Linked DNA regions of Homo sapiens. The protein of the gene in region 2 purifies or fractionates together with the protein of the main gene of each other region. This does not show direct contact. Each region holds a gene or a part of one and is shown on either strand. Other genes may lie near its edges. The genes, in order: TIMM17A and PAM16.

Region 1 (9,300 bases), on a different chromosome or scaffold from region 2:
GCACCCGGCCCTCAATTTTCTTGTTTTTGAGACAGGGTCTTGCTCTGTTGCCCAGGCCGGAGTGCAGTGGTGCGATCTCAGCTTACTGCTCCCTCCATTTCCCAGGATCAAGGAATCCTCCTGCCTCAGCCCCCTTGAGTAGCTGGGGCTACAAACATATGCCACCATGCCCAGCTAAATTTTTTGAATTTTAGTAGAGACAAGGTCTCATCCATGATCTAACAGACTGAATAGAATTTATTATTATTATTATTTGAGGCCAGATGCGGTGGTTCATGCCTGTAATCCCAGCACTTTGGGAGGCGGAGGCGGGCAGATCACCTGAGGTTGGGAGTTCGAGATCAGCCTGACCAACAAGGTGAAACCTCAAGTCTCGACCCCAAGTGATCCACCCGCCTCAGCCTCCCAAAGTGCTGGCATTACAGGCATGAGCCACTGGGCCCAGCCTGAATAGAATTTGGACAATTAATTTTAACTATAAGTAACATGCCACAGGGTGGAGCTATGACCATGCTTTCATAATTTGCAGACATTTCCTATGTGAAAAACAGATGCACTTTCAATAGCAGGTGCAGCTGTACCCATGTCTTCCAAACCCTGATTCAGAAATCCACTATTTCGGCCAGGCACAGTGGCTCACGCCTGTAATCCCAGCACTTTGGGAGGCCGAGGTGGGAGGATTGAGTCCAGGAGTTCAAGATCAGCCTTGACAATGTGGCAAAACTCTGTCTCTATTTAAAGAAAGTGCTGGCCAGGTGCAGTGGCTCATGCCTGTAATCCTAGCACTCCATCTCAAACAAACAAACAAACAAACAAACAAACAAAAGAGTCTTGTTCTGTTGCCCAGGCTGAAGTGCAGTGGCATAATCATAGGTCACTACAGGCTTGACCACCTAGACTCAAGGGATCCTCCCGCCTCAGCCTCCCAAGCAGCCGGTACTACAGGTGTGCACCCTATCTCTGGCTAAATTTACATTTTGTGGCTAGCGTCTCACTAGCCCAGGCTAGTCTCCAACTCCTGACCTCAAGCGACCTTCCTGCTTCAGCCTCCCAAAATGCTGGGATTATGGGTATGAGCCACCATCCCCAGCTGAACTGTTTAATAAATATTCTAAAACTAAATTTGGTATACTAGAGTAGAGCTCAAGATAAAAAGTAAAAAAACTAAATTGTTTTAATAACTGAAATAAATAACTGGAGAAACAAGCAGATTAGGAAGGAGGTTTTCCCTAGGTCTTTACTGGAATAGTGAAGTTAGTTTCTCACTTTTAAGGTTGAAATGCCCATCAGAAATACCCCATCTGTTTTGCTTTGTATCTGACATCTTGTGCCAAATTGGCATGCAATAGTGGATTACTTTTTTGTTTTGAGACAGTCTTGCACTGTTGCCCAGGCTGGAGTGTAGTGGTGTGATTTTGGCTCACTACAACCTCTTCCCTCCCAGGTTCAAGTGATTCTCCTGCCTCAGCCTCCCAAATAGCTGGGATTATAGGTGCCCGGCACCATTACCAGCTAATTTTTTGTATTTTTAGTACCCACCGGGTTTCACCATGTTGGCCAGGCTGGTCTCGAACTCCTGACCTCGTGATTCACCCTCCTCAGCCTCCCAAAGTGCTGGGATTACAGGCGTGTGCCACCGCGCCCAGCACTTTCTTTTATATTTTTGAGACGGAGTCTCGCTCTGTCGCCCAGGCTGGAGTAGTGGCAAGATCTCGGCTCACTGCAAGCTCCACCTCCCGGATTCACGCCATTCTCCTGCCTCAGCCTCCAAAGTAGCTGGGACCACAGGCGCCCACCACCACGCCCAGCTAATTTTTTGTATTTTTAGTAGAGACGGGATTTCACTGTGTTAGCCAGGATGGTCTCGAACTCCTGAGCTTGTGACCTGCCCGCTTTGGCCTCCCAAAGTGCTGGGATTACAGACGTGAGCCACTGCACCCGGCCAGACTCTTGTGTCTTTAAAAAAAAAAAAGTTAAACCTAGAACTACCATATGACTCGGTAATCTCACTCTTATGTATATATCCAAAAGAACCAAAAATAGGAGTTGAAACAGATAGTTGTACACCAATGTTCATAGCAGCATAATTCACAATAGCCAAAAGGTAGAAACAACCTAACTGATCATCAAATAAAATGTAGTATATGCACACTATGGAATATTATTCAGCCCTAAAAATAAATTTTGCTACATGCTACTACATGGACCTTAAAACACGCTAAGTGCATTAAGACGGACACACAAAAACAAATATTTTATGATTCCACTTATATAAGGTACCCAGAAAAGGCAAATTCACAGACAGAAAGCAGAATTGTGGTTACTAGTGGTTGTGGCGAGGAAAGAATGGGAAGTTATTATTTAACAGGTACAGAGTTTATGTTTGTGAAGGCTGGACATGGTGGCTCATGCCTGTAATCCCAGCATGGGGTGTGGGAGGCTGAGGCAGAAGGATGGCTCGAAGCCAGGAGTTCGAGGCTGCAGTAAGCTATGACTGTGCCACTGCATTCCAGCCTGGGTGACAGAGTAAGACACTGTCTCTAAAAACAAAACGGAGTTTATGTTGATGATAATGAGAACATTTTGGGTATACATAATGGTGGCTGTTATACAACATTATGACTGTATTTCAATGCCACTGAATTATACACTTACAAATGGTTAATAAGTATTATTTTATGTATATTTTACCACAGTCGAAAATTCCCAAATTATCCAAACACAATCAGTAATTAAATGCCTACCATATGTATGGCATTGGGCCAAAAGATAAACGTGTGTTTACAGTACCCACATGGCTTTGTTCTCCATTTCCCACAGATGTAGGCAAATGTGTAATTAACTAACATCATGCCTCCTATAGGGCCACATGTCACTTCCAATATCAGGAAAATGACCTGTTCTGAAGTGCTCATCCATTTTCCAGGCCCAACCAGACCCCAAAATACATCGTTTATGCAGAGGACTTGGAACACATTCAAAACAGTACATACTTTATTTTCAAGCATACAAGAAACACTAAACTCTTCCAGTGCCAGTACACTCTCCATGAATTCTTCATATAGAATTGGGTATATTGGAAGCAAGTTGTTTCTGGTGAAATTTCTGATGATCAGGAATCAAGACTCAGTAGCCCTAAAGGAAGAGAGTTTTGTATCCAATATCCTCAAAACCAAGACATAGTATATTTTACTTTCAAAGTAAACTATAAACATTTTACCATATCCTTCAATCCATAAAGCATCTCACTGTGAAATGATCCATGTTGACTCTGCATAATTCTCAGAAGTCACTTCAAGTGATGAGGGACTAACTATAAAACATGCATTATTTGAAGTACATGAGCATGAAACATCGAAGTCTACAACTTATCTTAAAAGAAAGAGTAAGTTCCACCAGCTTTTTATTGTTTGAATAACAGAACACACAAAACCAGGCAGAGAAGTCCGCAAGGAGATGATGATCATATTTCACTGTTTTTTGGCCTTTTGGTCCTTCATCTTTCAAGCACTTACTGTATTTTCCTTTAGCGATTTAAACATTTATTTTGATCACAAATGCAATTCAAGTGTGAATAAATAAACGTATTATCTTTTAGCACCCTTCCCCGCTTGTTCCTTTAAATAGAAAAAAGTGCTAAATGTCTCTTTATAGCCTATTGGCCATAGCTGTCCCACCTATGGTTTTAAAAACAGACTGTAACTTGATCTTCTGAAATCCTTCTCGAACCACAACTCGTTCTGTTAAAGAAATCCTAGGAAAGAAGTCCTACTGATATTGTCGATAGTCTCCAAAAGGTGAGGAAGGTAACTGAGTTGAAGGCAACTGGGAGGGGTCTTCTGCAAACTGAGGACCTGCAAGTGAGAAATAAAAAGGATTTAAAAATCACCTGAATATTATATTATTAAAAAGAACAAATCTCTATAGAGAGTAAATCAATCAACAACAAAAAAATGTGCTAAATTAAAGCTATAACCCTAAATTTCTTTATAGATCTGCCTAATTCCCATAAGAGTACTGGAGAACCTTCAAATTTGGTATAACATATGACAGACTGGCTTGCTATGCTCCAGAATGAACAGTTTTCAAACACTATGCTAGGAAAGTCAGACGGATTAATTATAGCAAGAAGCAAACTTCAAGTTTTTAAAGCAATTGCTGTAACAAGCTGCCATATATCAAGATTAGAAGAGTTTCTCCCACTTCTTGTCATATTTTTCAGTAGCTATTTAAAATTATTTTCACAAAGTATAAGTATCCTAGTCATGTTTTAAGAGAACTTGGTAATCCAATTTATATAACCAATTAAGTAGGGAATGAGCTCTGAAATGGGAAGACACCCCCTAGCTTACTGTAGAACAAAGTCTTGCAGTTTTCATTTTCAAAGGATAGGAGAGCCTGTGAACTAAGTAAAACAAAGTGGCTTAAAAAAAAAAAAAAGACTTTTAGGGGATGAATCAATCTTTTCTCCTTTAAGAAAAACTGAAGTAGACTAAAAAATATCTGGAAGGAAGAGAGAAAGAGGGCAGTGGCAGAATTCTCTGAAGTTTTCAAAGTGTTTCACTCATATATTTTTACTTCACTATAAATGCAACTATCTGTTAATTACAGAAAACTTGAGAAGATACTGGGTAAAAAAGATAAGCTGGGGCCGGGTGCGGTGGCTCTCGCCTGTAATCTCAGCACTTTGGGAGGTTGAGGCGGGCAGATCACCTGAGGTCAGGACAACATGGCGAAACCCCGTCTCTACTGAAAATATGAAAATTAGCTGGGCATGGTGGAGGGTGTCTGTAATCCCAACTACTCAGGAGCTGAGGCAGGAGAATCACTTGAACCTGGGAGGTGGAGGTTGCAGTGAGAAGAGATCGCGCCATTGCACTCCAGCCTGCGAGACAGAGCAAGTCTGTCTAAAAAAAAAAAAACAAACAAAAACAAAAAAACCCCAAAAAAAGATAAGCCGATGAAAACCACTGTTGCCATTTACATACAGTTCTGTCTAACCTTTTTTCACTGTTTTAAAAACTTTTTTGCTGGGCGCGATGGCTCACATTCCCAGCACTTTGGGAGGTCAAGGCGGGCGGATCACGAGGTCAGGAGTTCGAGACCAGCCTGACCAATATGGTGAAACTGCATCTCTACTAAAAAATACAAAAAAAAAATGAGCCAGGTGTGATGTTGCGCACCTGTAGTCCCAGCTACTCAGGAGGCTGAGACAGAAGAATCGCTTGCACCCCGGAGGCGGAGGGTGCAGTAAGCTGAGATTGCACCACTGCAATCCAGCCTGGGCGACAGACCGAGACTCTGTCTCAAAAACAAAACAAGACAAACTTTTTCATGTAAGTTCACTGGAAAAATATGATTAAGTTTTCAAAGATTTCCCCCCTACACAGCTTTTCAGAAACACATCTCTTGTCTAAAAATAAATACACCTCTTTTAGGCTGCTTCTATATAAATGCTGAGTTTTAATTACTAAAAAGGAGATTCCAGCTGGGCACGGTGGCTCACCCCTGTAATCCCAGCACTTTGGGAGGCCGAGGCAGGGAGGATCGCTTGAGCCCAGGAGTTTAGGATCAGCCTGGGCAGAGACCTCATCTCTACAAAAAATATAAAAATTAGCCGGGCATAGCGGTGCACACCTATAGTCCCAGCTGCTCAAGAGGCTGAGGTGGGAGGATCGCCTGAGCCCAGGAGGTCAAGGCTGCAGTGAGCCGAGATTGCACCACTGCACTCCAGCCGGGGTCACAGAGATTCTGTTTCAAAAAAAATTAAAATAAATAAATAAATAAATAAAATAAATAAATAAAAAGGAGATTCCCTCTGAGGAAAAAAGCCTAAAACAAAGTACTCAAGGCTAATTTCTATGAGACAATGTAACTATTTAAGTTAACTATATCCATTTCTGAATTTCTGTGAATATGGAACTGTTTTGATGTTTTATGTAAAGTCTTTCACACTGAAGCAGTCAAAACAAAATTGGAAAGTGACCATCACTACAGAGTGTTAACTCAGAAGTAAGGAATGAAAAACAAACAGAAGGTGAGAGGGTCTGCAGGGTCATCTAGATTACTCACTGCCATTTAACGAGCAGTGCACTTGAAAATTGTGCCAAAAAGATACTGAATCTCTTGCTAGGTGCCTCAGGGAAATCAAAGCAAATTGGGATGTATGATCTATTCCTAACTTTATGCTGAATCTTTTCCAAGCTCCAAAAATAATTTTCAACATGTCTCACTATTCTACGTATTTTTTTCCTTCCCAAATGCCAGGTCAAATTTTCACTACTACTATCCTCACTATATATATATACACACACACACACACACACACACAACATATATAATATACAACATATATAATATATAACATATATAATACATAACATATATACAACATATAACATACATATTATATAACATATATAATATATAACATATATAGCATATATATAACATATATATGTTATATATATATATATTTTTTGAGATGGAGTCTTGCTCTGTTGCCCAGGCTGGAGTGCAATGGTGTGATCTCAGCTCACTGCAATCTCTGCCTCCCAGGTTCAAGTGATTCTTGTACCTCAGCCTCCCAAGGAGCTGCGATTACAGGCGTGTGCCACCATGCCCTGCTAATTTGTATTTTTAGTAGAGACGGGGTTTCACCACGTTGGCCAGGCTGCTCTCAAAACTCCTGACCTCAAGTGATCCACCTGCCTCAGTCTCCCAAAATGCTGGGATTACAGGTGTGAGCCACCGTGCCCGGCCACCTCACAATATCTTTTTGCATCCTTCCATTGTCAAGGGATATTTTCATTTAGACACTGAAATTTTTTTTTAAGAGATGGGGTCTTGCTCTGTTGCCCAGGCTGGCCTTGAACTCCTGGGGTCAAGTGAGTGGCCTCCTGAGTAGCTGGAACTACAGGAATGCACCATCTTGATAGAAGTTTTCTGTTTGTTTCATTTTGAGACAGAGTCTCGCTCCATCGACCAGCCTAGAGTGCAGTGGTGTGATCTCGGCTCACTGCAACCTCCACCTCCCAGGTTCAACTGATTCTCGTGCCTCCTGAGTAGCTAGGACTATAGGTGTGAGCCATTATGCCTGGCTAATCAGCTGAGAGCACATTCTATAACCATGTAATGATCATTCAGCCCACAATTTAATTATTACCCTATGCATCATATAGGAGGAACAACAGGCAACAAATTAAACCAATATAAAAATTAGCCGGGCTAACACATTTTCTAAGATACTTCTACTGTGAACCCTAAAGTGACCTTCCCAAATATGAGTCACTTTCCACTATTCTCTTCTTCAAAACAAGCAACACTATCTAAAATAAGCTAATTTATCTGTTAATGTGTTAGTCTGTCTCCCCCTACCAGAATGTAAGTCCTTGAGGGCAGGAACTGTCCTGTTCACTACCTAAAACAGTGTCTGGCATGTAGATGTACAATACTAAATTGTCAATTGACCATCATGATTGTTATACATCTGCAGAACCATTCTTCAAGTCCCTTTAAAATGATCAGACATTTCTTGCAAGACATGAGCACTGATAAACCCTAAGTACTATAAAGAAAGATCAACAGCAAATTTATACAAAAAATTTTTGTTTTTGTGGCTAAATATAACATGTTCATTTTTTACCTATTATCACAGTCCTCATGAACCACAGCATATTAATACATACCACACATTTTATCACACAAAGTATGTTCTTTCTTAACATCAGAAAACCATTCCAAAATGTTTGAGCTATAGTTTTAAGCAAAAAGACTCACCATTGGGAAACTGTGCAGAGGCAAATCTTGTCAACAAGATACCAGCTCCTTCAATTAAAGCTAGGAGAATGCCACCCATTGCGGCTGACCCAACCATGGCCACTGGTCCATCTGAAGACATTAATAACAAAGAGATTATTTTTTACAGAAATCTAGTTTACTGTAAGAGATAGTAAAGAAGAGAACTGTCCATATGGTGACATGCTCCCCCAACTCCCAAACTCTTTCTTATTGCCTAAGACCCAGAGTCAGTAAACTACAGCCACCCACAGTCCACCCACTGCCTATTTTTGTAAATAAAGTTTTACTGAAAGGCCATAAATCCCAGCACTTTGGGAGGCTGAGGCAGGCAGATCATGAGGTCAGGAGTTCGAGACCAGCCTGGCCAACATGGGGAAACCCCGTCTCTACTAAAAATACAAAAATTAGCTTGACGTGGTGGCGGGCACCTGTAGTCCCAGCTTCTCAGGAGGCTGAGGCAGGAGAATTGCTTGAACCCAGGAAGCAGAGGTTGCAGTGAGCCGAGATTGTGCCACTGCACTCCAGCCTGGGTGACAGAGTAAGACTCCGTCTCAAGAAAATAAATAAATAAATAGGGCCGGGCGCAGTGGCTCACGCCCGTAATCCCAACACTTTGGGAGGCCGAGGTGGGTGGATTACGAGGTCAGGAGATCGAGACCATCCTGGCTAACATGGTAAAACCCCGTCTCCACTAAAAATACAAAAAATTAGCCAGGCGTGGTGGCACACACCTGTAGTCCCAGCTACTCGGGAGGCTGAGGCAGGAGAATCGCTTGAACCCGGGAGGCAGAGCTTGCAGTGAGCCGAGATTGCGCCACTGCATTCCAGCTCGGGCGACAGAGTGAGACTCAGTCTCAAAAAAAAAAAAAAAAAAAAAAAAAAAAAAAGAAATAAAATAAAATAAATAAATAAATAAAGTTTTACTGAAACACAGCCATACTGTTTCGTTTATGTATTATCCATGGCTGCTTTCATGCTATGACAGCAGATTTAGGTAGCTATGACAAAGACCACACAGCCCACAAAGCCTAAAATATTCACTATCTGGCCTTTTACAGAAATAGTTTGCAAATCCCTTGGTCTAAACCACTAAGCTCAAAGGAATTCTCTGTCCTGAGGATCCAGAAGATGGTTCTAAGTTCCTTATTCATAACAACTCTATATGGCAGGTGTAATTATTAATTAACTCCAGATTACTGGTGAAGAAATTATAGCATAAAAAGTTTGGTAAACTGACCAGTCATACAGCTAATTAATGGCAGAACTGGGACCTGAAGTGCTCTCAACCACTGTAATATATGGGTTAGAATTCCATGCTCTTTCATTCTCAAATATTCCAAATAAATAGATCCCCTTACTTTTTTTTCAAATCACCATATACTGTATATTTATGCTATGCCAAATTAAACAATGCTCAGTTTTATAATTATTATTTTTTTTGAAGCAGGGTCTCACTCTGTTGCCCAGGTGAGAGTGCGGTGGCTCAAGTGATCCTCCTGC
Region 2 (10,638 bases):
TGGCAGCCTCTCCCTCTCAAACTTTGGGGTGGCCCAGTGGCCTCACCTTCTGGACCTCCTCAGGGCTCAGCTTGGACACGTTGAGAATCTGCTGTGCCTCCTGGAGGCTGAGGCCGGAGAGGTTGGAAGCGGCTGCAGACCGGTGTCCAGCGCGTCCTCGGGCATCAGCTGCGGCCCGGCTGGCTGTGTGGACATGTGGGTGATCGCTCAGTCCTCAGCAGCCCACACTTCACCCTGGGCCTTCCGAGTTGGTGGCTCACCCCTGCCACCAGCACAGGATGAGAGACACAGGGACAGGTGGCTAGGAGCTGCCTCTTCTCCAGGAGTGGTTTCCTTTTTAGGGGGTAGAGGCTGGGAAAGTGAGGACAGACGTGCCTCACTGGAGGGTAAGGGCAGGATCTGACCGCTAATCCTGGCTCCTGGTCCCCAACCTAGACCATGAGATGACCCTGTCCCCCAACCCCCATATCCCAGGGGAACAGCAAATTGGGGAGCTTTAGGCTACGATGGAGACTGTATAGTGGGGCTGCGGGCATGAGAGGGCTCTGCAGGGGCCCAGCTGCCCACCTGTCACCTAGACCACCAAAGCCACTGCCTTGGGTGACCTCTCCCCTTTCAGTGACCCCAGAACCTAGAATCAGGAGCTGCTAAACTTTTCCTAAAGGCTCAGAGAGTAGCTATTTTAGGCTTTGCGGGCTAATGAGCCTACACTGGAACCATTCAACTCTGCCTTGAAAGCAGCCTGTCGGCCGGGCACAGTGGCTCACGCCTGTAATCCCAGCACTTTGGGAGGCCAAGGAGGGCAGATCACGAGGTCAAGAGATCGAGACCATCCTGGCCAAAATGATGAAAACCTGTAAAATACAAAATTACTAAAAATACAAAAATCAGCTGGGTGTGGTGGCACATGCCTGTAGTCCCAGCTACTGGAGAGGCTGAGGCAGGAGCATTGCTTGAACCCGGGAGGCAGAGGTTGCAGTGAGCCAAGATCGCACCATTGCACTCCAGCCTGGGCAACACAGTGAGACTCCGTCTCAAAAGAAAACAAAAGGGCTGGGTGCGGTGGCTCACGCCTGTAATCCCAGTACTTCAGGAGGCCGAGGTGGGCATATCACGTGAGGTTGGGAGTTCAAGACCAGCCTGACCAACACGGAGAAACCCCGTCTCTACTAAAAATACAAAATTAGCCGGGCATGGTGGCGCATGCCTGTAGTCCCAGCTACTCAGGAGGCTGAGGCAGAAGAATTGCTTGAACCCGGGAGGCAGAGGTTGCAGTGAGCCAAGATCGCACTATTGCACTCCAGCCTGGGCAACAAGAGCGAAAACTCCGTCTCAAAAAAAAAAGATTTATTTACAAAACCAGGGCCGGGCGCTGTGGCTCACACCTGTAATCCCAGCACTTTGAGGCAGGCGGATCACCTGAAGTCAGGCGTTCCAGACCAGCATGGCCAACATAGTGAAACCCCGTCTCTACTAAAAATACAAAAATTAGCCTGGTATGGTGTCGGGTGCTTGTATTCCCAGCTACTCAGGAGGCTGAGGGAGGAGAATCACTTGAACCAGGAGGCAGAGGTTGCAGTGAGCCAAGATTGCCCCACTGCATTCCAGCCTGGGCGACAGAGTGAGACTCCATCTCCAAAAAAAGAAAAAACAAGTTTACAAAATCAGGTATCCAGATGGGCCAGTGTGCCAGCTCCTGCCCTGGATGCTCTTGCTAACCAGGTACCACTGAAGAATGCCCCGGTCTGGCATCACCCCCCACCATGGGAAGTGCCTCAGGCCACGCACACTTCAGAACCGCCAGGCCTGAGGTGCCCATGGCTACGGGGAAAATCTGACCTGGAGAGGAACTCCCAGCCCACAGGGGAGACGGACCCATGCTTACCTGCAAACTCCTGCCGCAAGGCCCGTGCAAAGGCCCTGCCCACCACCTGCACGCCCATCACAATGATCTGGGCCAGGTACTTGGCCTGTGGGCAAAGCAGGCACCCGGTTAGCAGGCCACTCCCTGTGGGCCCACAGAGATGGGCCCTGGAAACGGCTGCCGAGGGGCAAGGCTCCCGGAGACCCGAGGTCATGAAGCACAGAGCTGCAGCCCCAGGCCAACCCCTCCAAAGCACCCTGAATGAAAGCTTCCATGGTGGGTGGCTTAGTTACTCACTGGACAGGCAGGCAGGCGGGTGAACTTGACCGAGCTCCCAGAGGCAGACTGGCCCCACCTCATCCTTCAGGAAAGGCGTAGAGGAGCAAGGCAAAGTGGCTGCAACCACCGGCTTCAGGAAGAAACACTGTGGTCTGGGAGCCAGAACACAGGGACAGCCCTGGACCTGGCAGTAACTCACTCTCGACCCTGGGGCCGACCATCACTCTTCCTGAGTTTCTGAGATCATCAGGCCCAACCTTTACTTTACCAACGGGGAAACAGATCTGTCCTAATTCTCCCAAGTCCGAAGACTTTAAGTCCATTCCATTCAATAAAACAAACTTACTATGCAAACCTGTTTCCATCTTCAAGGAGCTAAAAGCCCACTAGGAGGGTATTTAAACACACTATGGACCAAATCATGAGGGAGAGTCAGGCTCGTTCATTTGTGCAGCCATTGGTTCACCCATTCATTCAAACATCTGCTGAGAGTCTACTCTGCTCAGCACTTGAGCACAAAGCTACACAGAACCTGGTCCCTGCCCCGAGTCAGAGCACACTGCTGGCCTGGCAGGGAACCCCACTGTCACACACCAGGCTGAACATGCCGGAACACTGCACGTGTGATTCCATGCCCCGCAGAGGCCCTGGGGACTCACTAAGATGTGAGCGGAAGCAACAGAGTCGAGGGAAAACTCAAGACTGAGATGGGATTCGGTGAGAGGAGGGGGTTCTGTGTGAGAGGAGGGCGTTCCGTGAGAGGAGGGGGTTCCGTGAGAGGAGGGGGTTCCGTGAGAGGAGGGGGTTCTGTGAGAGGAGGGGGTTCTGTGTGAGAGGAGGGGGTTCTGTGAGAGGAGGGGGTTCCGTGAGAGGAGGGGGTTCTGTGTGAGAAGAGGGGGTTCTGTGTGAGAGGAGGGGGTTCTGTGTGAGAGGAGGGGGTTCTGTGAGAGGAGGGGACTGTGTGACAGGAGGGGGTTCTCTGAGAGGAGGGGACTGTGTGAGAGGAGGGGGTTCTGTGAGAGGAGGGGGTTCTGTGAGAGGAGGGGGTTCTGTGAGAGAAGGGGACTGTGTGAGAGGAGGGGGTTCCGTGAGAGGAGGGGGTTCTGTGAGAGGAGGGGGTTCCGTGAGAGGAGGGGATTGTGTGAGGGGGGGTTCTGTGAGAGGAGGGGGTTCCGTGAGAGGAGGGGGTTCCGTGAGAGGAGGGGGTTCTGTGAGAGGAGGGGGTTCCGTGAGAGAAGGGGGTTCCGTGAGAGGAGGGGGTTCCGTGAGAGGAGGGGGTTCTGTGAGAGGAGGGGGTTCCGTGAGAGGAGGGGGTTCTGTGAGAGGAGGGGATTGTGTGAGAGGAGGGGATTGTGTGAGAGGAGGGGGTTCTGTGAGAGGAGGGGGTTCCGTGAGAGGAGGGGGTTCCTCCTGGGCTGGGCTTTGCAGGGTAGGAAGAATCATGATGGAAATACTAGGGCTTTCTAGGCAGAGGGACTGGGTTGAGCCAAAACTGGCAGGAGAGAAGGCAGAAGGGAGTTCCTGCGAGCAGCCAATAGCCTAGGCTGGCCTGGGAAAGACTGGGAATCTGGCGGATGACATGGAAAGATGCACAGATCTTTGTGAAACAAAGCGATTATATATAGACAGCACATACAAAGGATCTTGTGACTGCAAAGCCGTAGACGCAGGGGGGTGGCGCGGGCTGGAGGCAGCTCGGCATAGGTTGAAAGCTCATGTGGCACAGCCGAGTGACTTTCCCTTTCTTCCTAGTGCTTTTCTGTAGATTTGCCTTCAGTCAACAAGTATCAACTGAGTCCACACACCAGGCACGGTGCCAAACACGTTCAATTCATTGTGCCGTTTAATTCTGACAACTCAGGGGTGGGGGACTGCTGACTGGCCCGAGGACGTAACAGCAGGTGCCTCGGAGGCAGATCGGAAACCCAAGGCTGGTGCTATCTGTCACAGCAGTCACTACGCAGGGTCCCGGGGTCTGAAGGTAGGGCACCTGGGCAAGCCGACAAGTATCAAGAACCCAACCCCGAGGCCAGAGGGGCTTGCTCCAGATTCCAGTGGATTCGACTCCAGAGCTGGCCTTGTTCAGCCTCCGAGGACCTGCTCTTTCCTTAACAGGTGGGATGTCATTATGGGCCATTAGGGGAATGAACAAACAAGTGGGTTAAGATTTCAAAAGTAGGTGGAAACTTCATAACTTCTGGATTTCACAGCAGAAAGAGCCCAGAGAAGACCCTCCTGTGATCACAGCGAGGGGCAGGGCTGTGGCTGTACTGCAGATGAGGGAGGGTCAGGGATGCACCTGATGACACCTGCGGTCTCACCTGACTTCGCCTCCTTCCTAAAGCCCCTCCCGAGTGGAACAGGAGGCTCAGGGATGGGATGCTGGTGCTGTCTGAAGGACAGAGGTGAAAGTCAGAGGGTCCCCTCGGCTTGAAACACGGCTCAGGTCTCAGACTACCCCTCACACCAACAGCCTTCGGTCCCTCTGCTGCCATCGTACAGCCTTGCAATCACTTGTTTACTTTTCTGCCAAGGCCAATGACTGTTGCAAAATAATGAACGGTAAGAGCTGAGGTCATAACTGGGGAGCTTCCCCGACCATCCCCTGCACACTTCAAACCAAAGCGGCGTGGTGGCCTGTGGCTTCAGCTGCCTAGAGCTGCAGGGCAGAGGGGGGCTGGCCTGCAAAGTTTCAGCAGACTGGACGGCCCATTGAGGCCAGCAAGGTTCCTATAGGAGGCATCTCTGAGAAGACGCAGTGTAGTGTAATGGTTACACCTGCAGGCTTTGGGATCACCTGTGTGCAAAAATCCCAGCTATCTGACATAGACACGTTCTCAACTCCTTTGAGCAACCCAGTTTGCTTACCTGTAAAATGTGGCCACCAATAAAGCTGAGATAATGCCTGTCAAATGCCTGGCACACAGCCTAATGGTACAGCAGGTGCTCAATAAACATTGGTTTTCATTCATTACTACTGTTTCACAAAATCTGACAATGACCAGGCACTATGAAGTAACAAAGCTTCTTTCAAAATAGCAGCTCATTTGATACAGGCCCTTTGCTTCCTCAGGGGTGAAGGCTGCAAAACACCATACTACATTCCCTCAGGGAGCTGGGAAGCAGCAAGGAAGCAGAACGAGAACCACGTTGACCTGGGACCAGAACCCTAGCTTTCTTTCTCAATAGCTGTGTGACCCTGGACAAATTACTCAACCTCTCTGAATCTTTTTTTGTTTTGGTTTGGGTCTTTTATTTTTTATTTATTTTTTTGAGACTGACTCTCGCTCTGTCACCCAGGCTAGAGTGCAGTGGTTCAATCTCGGCTCATTGCAACCTCCACCTCACCAGTTCAAACGATCCTCCTGCCTCACCCTCCCAAGTAACTGGGATTACAGGTGAACACAACCAAGCCTAGCTAATTTTGTATTTTTAATAGAGACGAGGTTTCACCATGTTGGTCAGGCTGGTCTCAAACTCCTGACCTCAGGTGATCCACCCGCCTCGGCCTCCCAAAGTGCTGGGATTACAGGCATGAGACACCACACCTGGCCTTTTTTTTGGAAGCAGAGTCTAACTCTGTCGTCCAGGCTGGAGTGCAGTGGTGCAATCATGGCTCACTTGCAGCCTCAGCCTCCCAGCCTCAAGAGATTCTCCTGCTTAAGCCTCCCGAGTAGCTGGAGCTACTTGTACTCAGCCTCCGAGGACCTGCTCTTTCCTTAACAGGCGGGATGTGATATGGGCCATTAGGGGAATGAACAAACACAAGTGGGTTAGGATTTCACAAGTAGGTGGAAATTTCATAACTTCTGGAGGCTGAGCACACGCCACCACATTTGGCTAAATGTACTTTTCTGGAGAGATGGGGTTTCGCCATGTTGCCCAGGCTGGTCTTGAACTCCTAGGTTCGCATGAACTGCCCTCCTCGGCTTCCCAAAGTGCTAGGATTACAGGTGTGAGCTACTGTGCCCAGCCTACCTCAGTTTTCTTAACTGCAAGATGGAGAGAATAACACCCTCCTCACAAGAGGACAGTAAGGCCCTCAGGAGGCAATGCCCATTAACACCACATGGACAAACAGCGGCAGGTCCAGAACTAGGCGGTGCAGGCAAGCCCCTCATCCACCTATCCAGTACCCCAACATCCCCTGAGCTTCTGCCATGGGTCAGGCTGAGTTCAGAGCTCATTCACAGGGAGCAGAGCTCTGCCAGCTGTGGCTACCATGGGTGACCAAAACAACCACTGCCTGAGGCCCCTCCCAGAGGCTCCAAACATCCCATAGTCCACCGACTGACACTTGGGCCTGAGGGTCCCAGGTGAGAGGACCCAGCTGACTTGGCATCCAACTTCAGGCCACGCGGCTGTCAGAGAGCAGCAGTCAGAAGCACAGGATCCAATCCTGGCATGCGTGGGGGCAGCATGTGCACTTCGTTGTTGGGCAGCAACCTGGCCCAAGGCAGGACCAGATCCCAGCAGCTGGGACCACAGACAGTGCTGTGGGAGGCACTCAGCAATGGGGCTTACACTGACTTGTGTCTTTGAGATTCGCGTGCAATGCGCCTTTGAGGCCAAGCCCCAGGCTCTGGGTAGATAAGCAGACAGCCTGAGACTCACTCTCAAGGACACTCTGGTCACCCAGGGCCCCTGAGAATAGATACGGGCATCACAACTAGACAGGAGAAAGGTCAGGACCACAACTGTAGCACGTGCCACAACATCAGGGACCTGGCCAGTGGCTGGCGCAGTAAGTGCCCCTGGTGCATCTGAATGAATATGGCTGTTGCAGCTTTGCCCAATCTGCTGTCTCATGAACTCCATGTCCCCAGGCAGGGTTTCCAAGCGCCTCCTAACCCTTCTGCGGGAGGGTTCTGGCCATCTCCCAGTAAACACACAATTCTCCACCGCCGCCTGCAGATTTGGTCCACTCCCCAGCTTGGCATTCACAGCGCCTGGTCTGGCCTCAACTTCTCAACCTCACCTCTCTCCACGCTGCAGCCACACCCTCTGCTCCTAGAGCCGCTCTCATACTTCTGTACTCCTCAGGGCCTTTGCTGTTCTGAGTTCCTCCACCTTGAACATCCTCCCTTCTACCCTGATCCTGTCAAAACCCAACATCCCTCAGGACCTAATATCATTCCCCATCCCCCGGGTGAAACCCTTTCCAGGCTCTCCCATGTATACCTTCCGACAGCACTTTCTTTTTTTTTTGGAGATGGAGTCTTGCTCTGTCGCCCAGGCCGGAGTGCAGTAGTGCGATCTCGGCTCACTGCAGCCTCTGCCTCCCGGGTTCAAGAAATTCTTCTGCCTCAGCCTCCTGAGTAGCTGGGACTACAGGCACACGCTGCCATGCCCGGCTAATTTTTTGTATTTTTAGTACAGAGAGGGTTTCACCGTGTTGCCCAGGCTGGTCTCGAACCCCTGAGCTCAGGTAATCCACCCAAAGTGCTGGGATTACAGGCGTGAGCCACCGTACCCGGCCTAGCACTTTCTTTTTTTTTTTTTTTTTTTGAGACGGAGTCTTGCTCTGTCACCCAGGCCGGAGTGCAGTAGCGCGACCTTCGGCTCACTGCAAGCTCGGCCTCCCGGGTTCAAGCCATTCTCCTGCCTCAGCCTCCTGAGTAGCTGGGACTACAGGTGCCTGCCACCACACCCGGCTAATTTTTTGTATTTTTAGTAGAGACGGGGTTTCACCATGTTAGCCAGGATGGTCTTGATCTCCTGACCTCGTGATCCACCCGCCTGAGACCCCCAAAGTGCTGGGATTACAGGTGTGAGCCACCGTGCCCGGCCAGCACTTTCTTTTCCTGTTAATATACTGTCATGCTGGGTGCGGTGGCTCACGCCTATAATCCCAGCACTTTGGGAGTCCGAGGCAGGAGGACTGCTTGGGCCCAGAAGTTTGAGACCAGCCTGGCAACATGGCGAAACTGCATCTCTACAAAAAATACAAAAAATTAGCTGGGCATAGTGGAGCATGCCTGTTGTCCCAACTACCCGGGAGGCTGAGGCTACTGGGGAGGATGAAATGGGAGGATCACCTAAGCCCCAGGAGGTTGAGGCTGCAGTGAGCTGTGATCGTACCACTGTACTCCAGCCTAGGAGACCCATCTGGGGCAACACAGCAAGACCCCACCTCTACATAAAATTTAAAAATTAGCCAGGTGTGCTGGCACTCACCTGTAGGCCCAACTACTTGGGGGTCTAAGGTAGGAGGATGGCTTGAGCCTAGGAGTTCAAGGCTGCAGTGAGCTAGGATCGCTCCACTGCATCCTAGCCGGGGCGACAGACAGACATCCTATCTCAAAAAACAAACCAAAAAAACCCCATGAGTTTTGGGACAGAGCTGGGCTCAAAAGAGGTCTCTGACACCATGGGATGCATGACTATGGTGGAGTCAAAACTGTCTGGGGCTCAGGTTCCTTATCTGTAAAATAAGGACAATGACAGCAGGACTTCATAAACACTAAATGAGAGACTCTACATAAAGCCTTAGCTCAGGGGCTGGCACTTGTACGCCGTTAGCTGTTACATTATCCTTATTACTATGTTAGTTAAGAAGTGGCTCCCCGAACCAGCTGCAACAGAGTCACTTGGGGAACTTACGTGTGCAGAACCTCCAGGGATAGAGCTCAAGAACCTGAACTTTTTTTTTCCCCCTCTTTTTCTTTTTGAGAGAGTTTTGCCCTGTCGCCCAGACTGGAGTGCAGTGGCACAATCTTGGTTCACTGCAGCCTCTGCCTCCTGGGTTCAAGCGATACTGGCGCCTCAACTTCCCAAGCAGCTGGGATTACAGGTGTGTGCCACCATGCCTGGCTAACATATGTATATATTATGTGTGTGTGTGTGTATATATATATATAAAATACATGATATATAAAAATATATATAACATAATAATATGTAGTATACATAAATGTATACGGTATATATAATACATATATATAATTTTTTTTTTGAGACGCAGTCTCACCCTGTCGCCCAGGCTAGAGTGCACTGGCGGATCTCGGCTCATTGCAACCTCTGTCTCGCGGGTTCAAGCGTCTGTCCTGCCTCAGCCTCCCGGGTAGCTTGGACTACAGGCGCGCACCACCCCACCCGGCTAATTTTTTAAATTTTTTGGTGGAGACCGGGTTTCATCATGTTGGCCAGGCTGGTCTCGAACTCCTGACCTCGTGATCCGCCGCCTCGGCCTCCCAGAGTGCTGGGATTACAGGCGTGAGCCACCGCGCCCAGCCAAACCTGCACTTTTAAAGCTACCCTAGGTGACCTGACAGTGTGGCGCAGGTCTGTTGACTGGCTCTACGTGCCAACGATATCACACAAACGCTCCGTGCTCGGTGTCTCGGGGCCTAGTTCAAGTCCCAGGTCAGCCACTTCCCTGGAAAGGCCAGCTTTCCACTGGGGATAACAACAGGGCAGCAACATCGACTCTGCAGCGCTGTAAGGTTCCAGGGCAGGGGAGGCGCTCACCAGCCAGACTCATGCTCCACCGCTGCCCACGGCTGCTCGCTCACACGCGGGCTAGGCACAGCGCGACCACGTTTGCCCGGCCTCTTCCAGGCAGACGGTTTTCCCTGGCCCTGAGGCCGCCGGTGCCGCCGCTGCCGGCCTCGATTCCCCCGGGTGCAACGCCCCCAGACCATGCTTCCCGCCGGGCACGCAGGGGGCGCACGGCGCCCGCCGCCCAGCCCGGAGCTCGCCGCCCGGCCCCCGGCCCCCGGCCCGACTCGGCTTCCCCTCCCCGGTAGCGCCCGACTCGGGGCTCACCATGGCAGCCGCTCTGCCTCCGGGGCTCAAACTCCGACTTCCTGGCCCCGCGGCCGGGGATCAAGCGTGGTCGGCGGGTCAGAGGTCAAGGAAAGCCGCAGAGAGCGCGTGCGCGATACGGCGCTGGGCATGCGCATTGCCTCAGTCTAAGGGCGGGCCACCGGGAGCGTCTTAGCGGCTCGGGGCGGGGTCGGAGGCGGGGTTTGACTGAGCCTGCGTCGGGCTCTGGATAACTGGGGGCGGGCTTGGGAGGGCAAGGGGCGTTACCGGGAGTCTCAATTGCCCGCGTGCTTACCCCAGTGCGCTGGAGCAGCTAAGCACATCGGTCAGACGTGGGGCGATTTCTGCCCTTGATTTTGCCAAAATATTTGGGAATGCAACATTATATGAAATCAATGAACATAATATGGAGTAGGATGCTAAATTCTCAAAAATACTTTAGAAAATAGAAAACTTCAAAATAGGTTTCATCCACATTCCTCCTGCCTGAGAAGCTCGTTCCCTTCTTCAAATCTTTGCTCAAATGTCACCTCAATGAGGCCCACCTGGACCCCTTAAAACGCCGTGACTTGCCCTCCATGAATGAAAAAAGTAACAGCTTTATTGAGATATAATCCATACACTGTAGATTTCATGATTTTCAAGTGCACAGTCCAATGCCTTTTATTCACAGAGCTGTGCCACTGTCACCACTATTAGTTCCAGAACGTTTTCATCACCCATTAGTC

The links.
Region 1: the proteins of PAM16 (region 2) and TIMM17A purify together in Homo sapiens (affinity purification with western blotting; 2 studies listed by BioGRID). This does not show direct contact.

What each region holds. Positions count from the first base shown.
Region 1 is NC_000001.11:201,964,023-201,973,322, reverse strand, and holds the end of TIMM17A (mitochondrial import inner membrane translocase subunit Tim17-A), read right to left. Parts: intron 7,891-9,300; coding exon 7,780-7,890; intron 3,855-7,779; coding exon 3,769-3,854; 3' UTR 2,659-3,768; downstream 1-2,658. UniProt on the Homo sapiens protein: Essential component of the TIM23 complex, a complex that mediates the translocation of transit peptide-containing proteins across the mitochondrial inner membrane.
Region 2 is NC_000016.10:4,341,322-4,351,959, forward strand, and holds the start of PAM16 (mitochondrial import inner membrane translocase subunit TIM16), read right to left. Parts: upstream 10,001-10,638; 5' UTR 9,914-10,000; coding exon 9,911-9,913; intron 1,971-9,910; coding exon 1,886-1,970; intron 184-1,885; coding exon 47-183; intron 1-46. Other genes in the region: CORO7-PAM16 protein, read right to left, coding at 47-183, 1,886-1,970. UniProt on the Homo sapiens protein: Regulates ATP-dependent protein translocation into the mitochondrial matrix. Inhibits DNAJC19 stimulation of HSPA9/Mortalin ATPase activity.